Regions from separate parts of the Homo sapiens genome. Here all the other regions are reported to be linked to region 1. Evidence: microRNA targets listed by miRTarBase, many of them from high-throughput screens and not tested one by one. Region 1 holds a microRNA gene; each other region holds the end of a gene's coding sequence.
What was found. Region 1 holds the annotated microRNA hsa-miR-548e-3p (AAAAACUGAGACUACUUUUGCA, at 775-796, opposite strand). A microRNA usually pairs through its seed, bases 2 to 8, with sites in the 3' UTR of a target mRNA and lowers its output. Matches are read on the target gene's strand: a 7mer-m8 pairs with bases 2 to 8, a 7mer-A1 pairs with bases 2 to 7 and ends in A, and an 8mer does both.

Region 1 (3,000 bases):
TGAATTGGCCCAGAGTATACTAGGAAAATATGATCCTGAAAAATAAACACTGATAAATAAAATATAGTTCTTAAAATTTCAGAAATCTAGAAATAATACTTTGGCTGGCCAAGCAAAATGACTAAGTCACTTATCATGGGGAAAAAAGAAAATGGACTGGCCTCTTATTTTTGTACATTCAATTCCAGAAGAAGGTAGAACTACCTGTTAACAAGTTCTACTGAGATCCTCAAGGAAAGGCAGTTTGATCCAATTATTTTGTATCTATCTAAATTGTTCTTAAATTATAAAAGCTACACACATGCAAGAACTATAGGAGAATACTGCTCCCATGAACCATTTTTGAGCAAATGACTACCAACCAGATTGACTTCAGCCAACCAAGAAATGACTGAGGCAACTATGGCAACAGGACTGCTGATAAACATTAAGACTAAAACAAAAATGGGAATTAGTACAACAAGGTATGTTACCTATGCTGACAATGCAGTTAACAAAAATAAGAAGAAAAAGAGACTCCTCCAGAAACGGCAGAAAGTAGAATAAACTCATTGATTGCCTCATCTGTACCATGATTCATATTTATGGATCACTCCACCCAACAAAAGTAGAATACACATTAAACTGCACATGGAATACTTTTACCATGATGAAAGAATTCAAGTCCTATCAGGAATGTTCTTGACCACAATGGAGGTAAATTAGAAGTCAATAATATATCATGGAAAATTGTCAAGCTTTTGGGAACAAAATAACATTCTTCTATCAGGTTGGTGCAAAAGTAGTCTCAGTTTTTGCCTTTAAAAGTAATAGCAAAAACCGCGATTGCTTTTGTACCAACCTAATAAAGCCATAGATCACAGAAGAAACAAAAGGGTAAATTAGAAAAAACTTTTAAAAGGAAAATACAACATATCAGAATTTGTGGGATGCTGCTGAAGCAGTACTTAAGGGGAAATTTACAGTGCTAACTGTCTTTATGAGAATAATAGAAAGGTCTCAAATTAATGACCTCAAGCTGCCACCATAAGAAACTAGAAAAAGAACAAATAAAACTCAAAGTAAGCTGGTGAAATAAAGTTCAAAATGGAAATCAATGAAATAAAAACCAGAGAAACAATAGGGAAAATCAATAAAACTAAGAGAGGATCAACACAATTGATATACTTCTAACCAGAATGATTAAGAAAAAGAGAAAACATACAAATTCTTGATATCAGGAATTAGAGAGGTGGCATTACTATAGATTCTACAGATATTAAAATAATAAGAATGTTATGAACAACTTAATGCTTTTAAATGTGATAATTGAAATAAAACAAATATATTCCTTGAAAGACCCATATGACCAAGTTTGCTGAAGAAGAAAGTGATAACCTGAATAGCCCTATATTTATTAAAGTAATTGAAATTGCTTTAAAACAAATTCCCATAAAGAAAAGTCCTGTCCTGGATGGCTTCACTGGTGAATTTTATCAAATATTAAAGGAAGAAATAATGCAATTTCATACAAACTATTCCAAAAATTGAACATACGTAGCCAGCATTACCCTGAAACCAAAAACCAGGTAAAGATAGGTTGTATAACATTACATGTGAATTTATTATTTATTCAAAACAAATACATCTAATATTTAAAACTACCACCAGAATGTAACTTTTTAATTTATTTCTTCTTGGTAAGCAATTTTGGTCTTATTATCCGGGTTTTTATCAAGTTCAGGGAAACATTATAAAATTATATTTTATAACTATCACCACTATTTGGCCTTCTGGAACGTCTAGTCCTATCTGCCATGACTTTTTAACTTTTCACTTCTTTTGTATACATTTCTTTTTGATCTAGATTCTAGGGGACTTTTAATTTATCCTAGAGATCATCACTTTGGTCTCTGGCTGTGTTCATTTGGTTATATGGAATTTTCCATTAAATTTGATTTGGCAAACATATCTCTAAGAATTGTATTTTATTCTTTGTTCCCTTTTTGTATCAGCCTCATCATGTTTTAAACATGCAGTTTAAATATCCTATGTTTTTTTTCTCCTAAGGTCACATCTCCTTGTTCATCTTGGCCATTTCAATAGATTTTAAAGAGAAAAAAAAGCATGAAATAATTGTGCTTGGTCCTTATTATCTTGAACCAGAAATCTGATTCTCTTATTTTATACAGGACATTTAGTAGAATATTTATTTTGGATATTAATAGAATAATTCATTATGTGTTGGAGACAATCTTGCCTTTCAGAGGGACATCTAAACCATAAACCAGTTAACTAGAATATGTAATCTCTTTCCACTACAAATAGTAATACGATAGTGTCATGGGCCAAAAATCAGGGAAACATAGATTCTAACGGCTATTTATTACATCCATGTCTCAGCTTGCTTTTCTGTAAATAATTGTCCTGTATAACCTAAGACAATCTACTCAACCCTGCTAAGAAATTCCCTAACAACTGCTTTGTTTCAAGTAATGGTAGGTAATTCAAATAAATTCTCCCAATAAAAAAATAAATAAATAAAAACATCTTCCAAAACCAAAATCAGAGAGTTAACAACGTAATGACTAAGCACCAGAACAGAAACAAGCTGGGAACCCAGATACAAGCAAAACAATGGAGATAATTCTGTCCTAAGAACACAGCCCTAACTGGAAGATGCAGCTAAAAGGCTAAGTTATTTTTCCAGCAAGAGTCAAAATCTAGGGCCTGCCAAGGGTGGGGACTCTAGTCATCAACCTCAACTGGGACCCTCTAGAGCTGCACCCTACCAGTAAGGGTGAACTGGAAATAAAATAGTCATCCAGTTAGCCTGCAGCAAAACTTTTAATCACTTGGGGGACCACACACATCTCAAGCCTTGAACACGAATTGATTGAAGTGATCCCCTCTCTACTAGGTACCCAACAGAGGCAGACAAAAACTCTTCTGGAGAAAGATAACATCATCACAGGCCTCAAATGATTTAGTAATCATGCCTCTAAAATATTCATGACTGGA
Region 2 (3,247 bases), not on the chromosome of region 1:
CTCATCCCATCGTGATAACCTGTGAGTGCAAGTAACTCCAGCCACGCCGGCTGGCAGCAGGGAAGCTGCCCCTGTGACAGGCCAGGCATGCCCGCTCCTCCTGCCTGAAAACCGGGTGCCTGTGGTGAGGAGGGGTAAGGTGGCAGGTTCAATTCAGCTCGTGCTGCACTTAAAACTTTCTACCATAAGAAAAACACATACTGTTGACCCTTAAACAACACAGGGTTTGAACCTGTGGGTCCACTTATATACATGGAGCTTTTCCAACCAAACATGGTTTATTTGCTGAATGTGAAACCCACGTATACGGAGGGCTGACTTTTAGTGTACGCAGGTTCCGTAGGGCCAAGTGCCAGACTTGAGTATGCAGATTTTCGCATACGTGGGGTATCCTGGAACCAATGTCCTGTGTATATTGAAGGATGATTCAAATACTTCCCAAGAGGTTGTGTCAAAATTCAGTAAAATTTGAAGAACTGCAAAATATTTCTCCATTACAAATTCTAACATCCTACACAGAGACCACCACCCCAACTGTTTTTTAAAAAGCAAACATAAATACAACACTTGGTTTTGAACCTTTAATAAAAGTAAAAAATGAATGCAAAAAGAACACAATGTTGAAAACTTAGTATGAATGTGAACCTCACTAGATGTTCAAATCTGGTAGAGTGCAAATTTTGTTCATACTATTTTACATTTTTACAAACTCAAATCACTTTGGTTCATATATTTTCTATAAACTATTGGCAAAAAAATCCTCAAATTTACATTCTTTTGGCTACATTATTTCTAACAGATATAGATTTACTTCCGGTTTCGGAGAGAAAGACTTATTGTGTGTGCGTGATCAAGTCTGTTTTAAAGATTCACTCGCTGCTTTCATCTAATAACTTCTGGTTTTTCATAAAATGCTGACATCTTCATTGGAAATTTTTTTCATGTAACTGTTTTCATTTTCAGAAAATATATAAGGGGGTCATTCCAAAGTTCAGAATGATCCTATTTTTTTAAAAAACAAAATTCCTGTAAAACAAATTAACTCCAGGAACTTAAAATTTACTCCAAGACATTTCCCTCAAAACAAAGCAAAAAACCCCAGCAAAGATCGTTACATCACAAAACCAAACACAAAGACCAGCGCTCACAGGCAAGTTCCTCTAAGCTTCCATTCTGCTGACTGGTGGCTTCCATTTAAAAGGAGTCTTTTAATCAAGCCACTTTCACAGAATTTAAAACAAACCAAACACATGTAAATTGCAAAATACAAAAAGGTAAATTTATAAGTAAAAATGACCAAACCCACAAAACTGGAGTATTTCGAAGGTTGAGGGTTCAGTGGAGGGTGTAACACGAAAGGAACTTCACAACTGAAAGAAATCATTGCCGAGTTTCCTCCAGGCAGCACTGAAATGAATGGAGAACCTTCTCTCGAACATCTCACACGTTAAAAAAAATAAATATTTAAGAGATACAAGGCTCAGATTGGTTTTCATATACATTGCACTTGAAGTTTAAGACCCAATACTTGCAAATTAGGTCTGGTATGGTCTATGCCATTAAATGAATACATTGTGCTCACCAATATCATTGACTAGAAACACCACACGTTTAATGCAGTGCCATATGCACTCTCCTTTTTACAAGGCAATCACAGATTGCAAATTCCATAGGGCTGTGGCAAAAAACAGTCATCTCTATTCTGTAGTAACAAACAAACAATTTTGGCTCACTAAGATTGAAATACATGGCAGACAGGTATTCATTCTTAGATGACTATGGATTTCGAAATAAACTTCATAAACTGAGGTGAAAATTCCAATATATCGCAGTGTGGGAACCAAGACTTTTCATTGCCTTTTGCTCAGTAAGATTGTCTACACAAACTGCCACGGGAGGAATGACAAGCAGTTGACCCACTGGTGATACACACACGTGTGACCATGTAAACACGCCACTGCAGGACGGACGAGCGTGACCGTGAAGCGTGGCCACGCCGCGACCCCACTTAGAGTGTGACCTCTCTATAATCACTGCTGCTTTTCTTGTTTTGTTTTTTTTTTTAAACACAGCCCTATTTTTAAAAATCTTTTGGATAAATATTATTCCTATTACACCATACTTCATGTTTGTTAAGCACCATCAACCTACCTCCTTTGGGCACTGACACAAAACTGCGGGTTGGTAATTGAGTCTTAGTTCAAGGCTTTGAAATATGGCAACTTGTTTTAATCACATGAATGAAATCGAATACTTGGGAAGCTGCCACCTGCCTGAACCCACGTAGCCTGGGCAGAATGCTCCAGGGCACAGACAGGCGCCAGTGCGGGCAGTCAAGGGAAGACTTCAGGGTAAGTCATCATTCTCCACCTCCCTATTCTAGACTAGGTGAAGAGTTTTTTCCAGGAGTCATTTGTACAGTCAGCCCGATCTAAATAGATTACTTAAGAAAAAAGATAATCTTTGTCATAATCCACAGTCAGATTTTCTTCCAAAATCTTCCTTGCTCTCAGAATCGGTGGTTTTGAAGACTCAATCACTATGGGGCTTTTCAGGAACACCCTATGTGTAGAAAGGAAAAAAAAAAGGAAAGAGAAAATTAGCACTAAATGTATAAATATTTTAATTACCAATTAAGTAGGTCCTAACATGGGAAAGATTGACACTTTCTTTGACTGAAGCAACAAGATTGAGAGGTGGGACATGTGCAGAGAACTGGAGACCGAGGCCAGCTCTCCCAGCTCCCCTGCACCGTCTTCATGGCTCTGGCCCCGTGAGCCACAGCTCTCACCTGCAAAATTAGGATAATTCTCTGCCTCAGGTGAAATTACGCTGCTGAGGCCCTTATATAAAGCCTGTTATATAAGTGTAAGATATTGGTGAAAGTTTAACTAAATTAATATCTATATAAAGGAAACACCCAATTTTATCAAAGCATGGTGATGCTTAGGGTATGATAGGTTCCTGAAAGTTCTAACTGCAATTTAAGGGATTGAACCTTTATCTGAAGGGAGGTTTCTGCCACAAACCTTTATTAGTATCTGATGCCTGTGTTATAACCCACCTTACCAGCAGTTTGTTGAAACAGACATTGGAAATAGGTCATGCTTTGTAATACTGAAGCTCTGTGTGCCCTCAATTCACACAGAGCTTCACAGTTGGGAAATCCTTTCTACATGTTCTTCCTCATCTGACCCTCACAGAGCTTCTGAGAGGTAGACACTACAGTTACTACTATGACCAGGCA
Region 3 (3,247 bases), not on the chromosome of region 1:
TACATATTACTCACAGGGTTGCCTGGACACAAGGGAAACAGTTTCTTCAGGAAATGTAATCTGGACATTAATACATTTGCATTGTTTGCTGGACTATTGTATTATAGCACATAATTCTGTTGGGACTATGATTTTTGGACTTCAACTTTCAGATGTGTCTTTAGTAACTTATTTTGTATGAAAATATGGGACATTAGAAAAAGTATATTTATGGGTTTTTTTCCTCTGAATTACTTTTTTTTTCTTCTATCATACTAACTGTAAAGAGAGTTATGTACTTATTGTAAAAGATTTTAAGGATAATGTTAGACAATTGTATGGTTTCTTTGTGTGTGTGTGTGTGTGTGTGTGTGTGTGTGTGTGTGTGTGTTTATCTTTTTTGCTTGCCTTATTTAGCAGTTTTAACGTTCAGGTATTCCTAAAGTTTTGAATCTTTATCTTTTCAGAATCTTTAGAACACGATGTTCTTGATGATAATACAGAGCAGACAGATGACAAAATACCAGCTACAGAACAGACAAACCAAGTGATTGAAAAAGCATCTGACTCAGAGGAACCAGAGGAGAAACAAGAGACTGAGAATGAGGAAGCCTCAGTGATTGAAACCAACTCCACAGTTCCTGGAGCTGATTCTATTCCTGATCCTGAACTAAGTGGAGAATCTTTGACGGCAGAGTAGTAAATGCTTCCACGTGCCTTCAACTGGATATTTATAGTCTTACTGATGTCAGTTATTGCTTTTTCGGTGGCACTTACTTTTTTTGCCCCTCTAAGGGTATGCTTGTGTATCATTTGAATTCAGATTGCCTAGCTATTTGAACATCTCAAAGTTATATATACTGGGTATTAAAATTAAAAGCAAGTTATATCAGTGAAGTAAGATCCTTTTGAATGTACAAAGACCCACACTATTGAGACAGCTTTTAGATACTTTTTTGTCCATTCTAAAAGTAAGCAAACATGATTGCCTTCTTGTTTTCTGTATGTATAACCCGTAAATATCCATTTTGACATAGGAAGAACTTTGGTTAAGAGTAAGTTCTCTAATTGTGTTTGTTTTAAGGAATGAAACTTGGTTAAGATTTTGACTACTTCATTATTAAAAATTGATAGAATTTTAGCTCCTGAGATATTTACAACTGGGAGAAATGTCTATTTAGGTGTTTACATTAAGCGGTATGAAAGTTGTTACCACATAGGCACTGGTACGAATTCTCAATAAGAATGCAGTGGAACAGTTAAGTAGAACTGTAACTACGTTGGCACTGGTACGAATTCTCAGTGAGAATGCAATGAAACAGTCAACTGCAGTGTTTCTTTTTGATGTCTTTTATTTTACAACTGGGCCAAAGGCACATTATGTATATAATTAGTTTATATTTACACACTAGCATATAGGAAATATTTCTGCACTTGACCCTATTTGAATTCTGAGCATTATTTATAAGTATAAAATGATGATATATAAGTGAATTTTGTGCTCTTGTTTGTATTTTATTAAGGAAAATGAAAATAATCTGGCATCAGTTTCATTTTGCTAAATATCTAGTCTTCTTCAAACAGTATCTTGGTGGGTGACTTGGCTACCTGAAAAATCTTAGGAGGAATAGCTCACAATACAATAAATCTGTAGATTCTGCTTAGAGCAAATTATGGTACTTTTATTCAGACTTGTTTCCTTTCTAGTTAACAGAAATAGTGACATTTAGAGGTTTTAATCAGAAGTTAGGTTTTTCTGATTCAGGAACATCGTAGGCCAGCCATTTGTAATTTTTAACTTTGAGAAACAAATTTTGTGAGAATAGGTAGTGGGTTGCTGGTAGTTAATTGGATTTAATATTTGTATTAAGGATTAACTGGAAAAAATGTGTCTCAGTGCTAATTCTTGGACCTTTAATACAGTGTGCTTATCTGTTACGGCCTCCTTTTATCTCTCTTCTCCAATATTAAAAAAAATGGAAATCAAATTATTATGCTGAAGGGAAAAATATACCTGTATAAGAATGGTGTGTTTGGCTAATGTTTCTAAGTTGCACACAGTTTATTAACAACTGAACAAAACATTTTTATCATTTAAAAATCTATTTTTATGATTTAATATCTCATATGTGACAGTTTTTTTTTTTTTTTTTTTTTGGAACTCAATCTGTTAACAGTCTGGGACATCCGGTATAGTAACCAGAGTTTTTGAGCCTGCCGTATTGGGCTTAAATTTCAGGTCTGTAGTCTTGGGCAAGTCACCTATAAACTCACTGAGATTATTTTTTCATCTGTAAAATGGGAAGAGTTATGTTTATTTTTGAAGGGTATTAGGATAATTAAAAATAATGTAATGTGCCTAGCACACTACCTGAAAACGATGGCATTTGTTCTTATTAATGTCTTTAAAATATGCAAGGACCATAAGTTTTTCCTCTTGCAGATGAGGAAAGTAAAAAATAATACGAACATGTAATTCAGCTTCTCAGATTCAAGCCAATGTTTTTTGCATCAACTTTTCTATATTGTATGTATGTATATAAATACATAGATTAAGGAAATAGGAAACTGAAACTCTGTGGAATATAAACTTTTTAAAAATAATTTCATCAGGTTTTTTGTATGTTACTGACCCATATGGATTTTAGTAACATCTTGCTTAGTCATGTTGTTATAAAACATTCAAATTCTGATATACATTGCTTGAAAATGAGTGAGTACCTCAGAGAAATTTGATAGACTCAAACAGATAGTATGAGAAATATCTTTGAAAGAAATATGGAGGAAGGTTAAAAGGGGATTAGTAAAATTAATGCGATAGGTAACATGTTTGTAACCATATAGTATCCTTTTAGATACAAAAGCTTATTTTCATTATTATTATAATAAACAGTTAATGGTTGAAACTTAGTAAAATGTCCTATTTCTGATTATTAAGACTAGTATAAATGAGAAAATCCAAGCTATTAAGTACCATTAGCTACAGTGATCTTAGCTTCCTTGCTTACAATTGTTCAGTGGGTCATCTAAATTCTTCTATGTCCTGAGCATGATCTACAAACATGGTCTAGCTTCTGTCTCTCCGTCTTCCCGCCATCATTGTGCTGTAGCCATATGGAACTCCTTTCAGTTCTCTGACCATGCCCTTTCCTGCCTCAGATTTCAGCTTAAATTTTGCCTCCTCAGAGAGATGCCTTCCCAAACTCCCCATCTGAAGCTGGCCTCTGCCTTTTACTCCCTATCATGTCACTCTCTGCTCACCATCCTT
Region 4 (3,247 bases), not on the chromosome of region 1:
TGGGAGGATCACTTGAGCCTAGGATGTCAAGGCTGCAGGGAGCCGTGACCACTGCACTGCACTCCAGCCTGGGCGACAGAGTAAGACGCTGTCTCAAAAAACATTTTTTTAAATTTTTAATTAAAAATGTATTAATTATGTTGGTCTTTCACTGTCTCGTAACAAAAGTTAAGACATTTTTCCTTTTGTTTTTCTCCTCTCCATCCAGGCCAGTCAGTTGGAGGAGCTTTTTCCAGTGCAAAGACAGCTATGTCTTCATGGCTTTCCACTTTCACCACTTCCACCTCCCAAAGTCTCACTGAGCCACCAGATGAGAAGCCTTGAGCAAGGCGTCAGAGGCTGCTATTGCTTTCTGAGGTTTAAGTGTCCCCTGTCTGTCTGCTGCTCCCAGGCTGTTACTAGCCACAGATCCACAGCAGGGGACCATATGTCGAACTGTTTACATGGATGTTGCTCTAAGTGAATGTTTCGGGATGCCGAAATGATGAAATCACAGCCATAGCAGGGATGGCTTTCCAGGTTGGGGTTTCAATTGACTACTTTTATTTCAGTCTGAGCCTGATTAAAACATACAGTGAACCTTCTAATGAATTTTGAGTTCTGATATTGTACATTGGTTTACTTTAGAAGAGTTTTTACTTATGTAAATTTTGTTCTGTTTTGGTGTTTGAATATCTAGATGGTCACTGTAATTTATACTTGCTAAAATTAATTTATATTACCATTTTCTCTAAAGTTGGCCTTAAAACGTGCTTATAAAGTGAAGGGGTCATACAGTTGGGCCTTCATTATTTTGCTGAATTATGTGATGATTTTTTTGCTTTCTACCCACAAAACATTTATTAATTCACTTCCTCCCAGAAACATGAAAGTTAGAGGTGGTAGTTCTGAGGATTGGGTGTTTTGTTTTACGTTTTTAGTTTGTTCTTTCCACATCCTTAAAAACTTGGTTTCAGACATCAAGGAGTATCACTGTGCTTTCCTCCTCTTTATAACTGTGCAGGTGGGTGTGCAGAGAAATAGCAGAGTGATGGTTCGATGATACTGAAGCAGTTTAACATGAATGTGTCTGTAGGGCAATACTTTCAAAGAAGACCTATGTGTTTATTTTTCAACCGCAGTCATGTTGCAGTCTTACAAGCACTTTTTTTTTATTCCAGAGTTTGTGCCATCTGTTTCTCTTTTTTTTTTTGGGGGGGGGGGGGGGGCGGGGTCTCACTCTATCGCCCAGGCTGGAGTGCAGTGGTGCCATCTCGGCTCACTGCAACCTCCATCTCCCGGGTTCAAGCAATTCTTGTACCTCAGCCTCCCAAGTAGCTGGGATTATGGACATGCGCCACCATGCCCAGCTAATTATTGTATTTTTAGTAGAGACGGGGTTTTGCCATGTTGGCCAGGCTGGTCTTGATCTCCTGGCCTCAAGTGATCTGCCCGCCTCAGCCTCTCAAAGTGCTGGGACTACAGGCATGAGCCACTGCGCCTGGCCTGTTTCTTTTTTAAACAGTTTTCTATTGGGTGTTTGCAGACCTACAGCTTTTCTCGTAGTCTTATTCATAAAGCTTTTCAAAGCACTTAGTCTTCTACTTCCCTAACTGAAAGTCCTCCTATAATCAATCCCTACCCCCTTCTAGAAGTATCTTAAAAGAAAAGCAAGGTGATTGTAAGTATTAAATAGAAATCTCATCTTAGTTTATATTCAGCAAAGTAAGAGGCAAGAGAAGAAAACTGCAGCCTTGACATCTGTCATCTGAGAAAGGATATCTGGTTTCATGTTAGGCACATACATGCATGTGTGTGCCATCTACTGATGATTTGTACACAGCTGGACCTCGTGTGTTTGCCATGCTCAGCTCTCATTTGCTTTTCAAGGATACCTGGGATGGCTGTTCTCAGAGAGTACTTACGGGGAACAGACTGCCTTTTAGTAACAAGGGATACTTGGGAAATACATTGTGAGTATGATCTATCCCAGATTGCTGGGGAAATAAAGGAGGGCCCTGATTATATTTGGTTTATTCCTCACTAAATGTTTAAGAAGTAAATGCTCCCAAGGCATTTGAAATGAACATAGAAACATAATCTAAATGTCTCTAAATTTTCCACTTTGTGTTTTCTAAACACAAATTGTATTACTCATTTGAGCATAACTCAAGAATTCAGCGATGATAAATTGAAGGGCTGAATGTGAGAACTCCATTAATTCCACTTCTTCCAAGAAAGTTAACCTCAGGAAATGCTGTTTGAAGAGAAGAAAGTAGTACCAAACAAAAACCTTAAACAGTACTTGAATCTTTTTTGCGCTGAGACTATAAAGAATTCATTCTAACATCTTGTTTCATAAGGGCCACATCATTCGTTGGAGCATGATAGTGTGATTTGTGTACAATTGTTACCTCTCAGCTGCTGAAGTTCACACTTCAAGGATCTAGGAGCTCTGTGAGGGGTCGTCCAGCAAGATGCTGATTTGTCTTTCAGTTGGTATGGTTTCTGTGATCGGGGTAAACTCCCGTCTCCCACTATTCAAAAGCAGCCCAACTCATGCTTTGGAATCCACTGAAATAAAAATAGTTACATGAAGTTTAACTTTGCTTTAATATCACTTGTTCCTCATTGAATATACACTTTGATCGGACTTTCTATTAACATTTCTAGCTAAGAGTTTGACTCTTAGTGGTCACTTTACTGACTTTCCAACATAAAACAAGTATCTCAGAAGATACAACTTTCATCATAGAAATGGTCAAAAGACCATAGCTATATTTCCTTCAGGTTCTGGGAGGTGGAGTTTTTCAAGGAACACTGGCTGTTGTATTGTTGGCAGGGGCCCCAAGGCAGCTCGCACAATCAAAGGCAGGAAGCCTCACCCCTGGTCCTGTGACCCCCCCCCCCCACACACACACATACTTCAGGCTTGGATTCTAGGCTCCAAGTGGCCAGCATAGAAGCAGCAGCCTCTCTCCAAACCCTGGCTCTGTGAGCCATAGGAACCAGCACTAGGTCATCTTCTGACATAGCCCTGGTGAAGGTGTGTGTGTGTTGGTGGCCACACTTGCTAAGGCTTTTGTGTCTAAGAATTGAGTATTTGTACCTAGGTGTGAGGGAACCAGGGTCAGCCAGCCTTTTTCAGATGGCGCCAGGCACACACACTACATCAATGGCTTGCTGGTGGCTTCACCACTATCCAGGTGACTTAAAAGAGTGTTTGGAAAATGTCCCTGGTATACTTCAATTCCTACTAGACATTGTA

Region 2: the mRNA of INSIG1 is a reported target of hsa-miR-548e-3p. Seed matches in the 3' UTR shown: 7mer-m8 at 2,171-2,177 and 7mer-m8 at 1,307-1,313.
Region 3: miRTarBase lists LNPK as a target of hsa-miR-548e-3p. Seed matches in the 3' UTR shown: 7mer-m8 at 2,113-2,119.
Region 4: the mRNA of AVL9 is a reported target of hsa-miR-548e-3p. Seed matches in the 3' UTR shown: 7mer-m8 at 1,502-1,508.

What each region holds. Positions count from the first base shown.
Region 1 is chr10:110,986,774-110,989,773 of GRCh38, reverse strand. MIR548E (microRNA 548e) reads right to left here and starts at 848; the gene lies at 761-848. All of the region lies in intron 3 of SHOC2 (SHOC2 leucine rich repeat scaffold protein), which reads right to left.
Region 2 is chr7:155,307,556-155,310,802 of GRCh38, reverse strand. It overlaps INSIG1 (insulin induced gene 1), which reads right to left. Exons shown (of 6, transcript NM_005542.6): 6 at 568-2,562. The coding sequence ends at 2,533. It overlaps LOC105375592 (a long non-coding RNA gene), which reads left to right. Exons shown (of 3, transcript XR_007060612.1): 3 at 1-610. Among named protein-coding and RNA genes, the nearest start is that of INSIG1-DT, 10 kb to the right of the region's middle.
Region 3 is chr2:175,927,399-175,930,645 of GRCh38, reverse strand. It overlaps LNPK (lunapark, ER junction formation factor), which reads left to right. Exons shown (of 13, transcript NM_030650.3): 13 at 447-3,247. The coding sequence ends at 679. Among named protein-coding and RNA genes, the nearest start is that of LNPK, 73 kb to the left of the region's middle.
Region 4 is chr7:32,583,584-32,586,830 of GRCh38, forward strand. AVL9 (AVL9 cell migration associated) reads left to right here. Exons shown (of 16, transcript NM_015060.3): 16 at 209-3,247. The coding sequence ends at 324. It also overlaps the pseudogene DPY19L1P1. Among named protein-coding and RNA genes, the nearest start is that of AVL9, 90 kb to the left of the region's middle.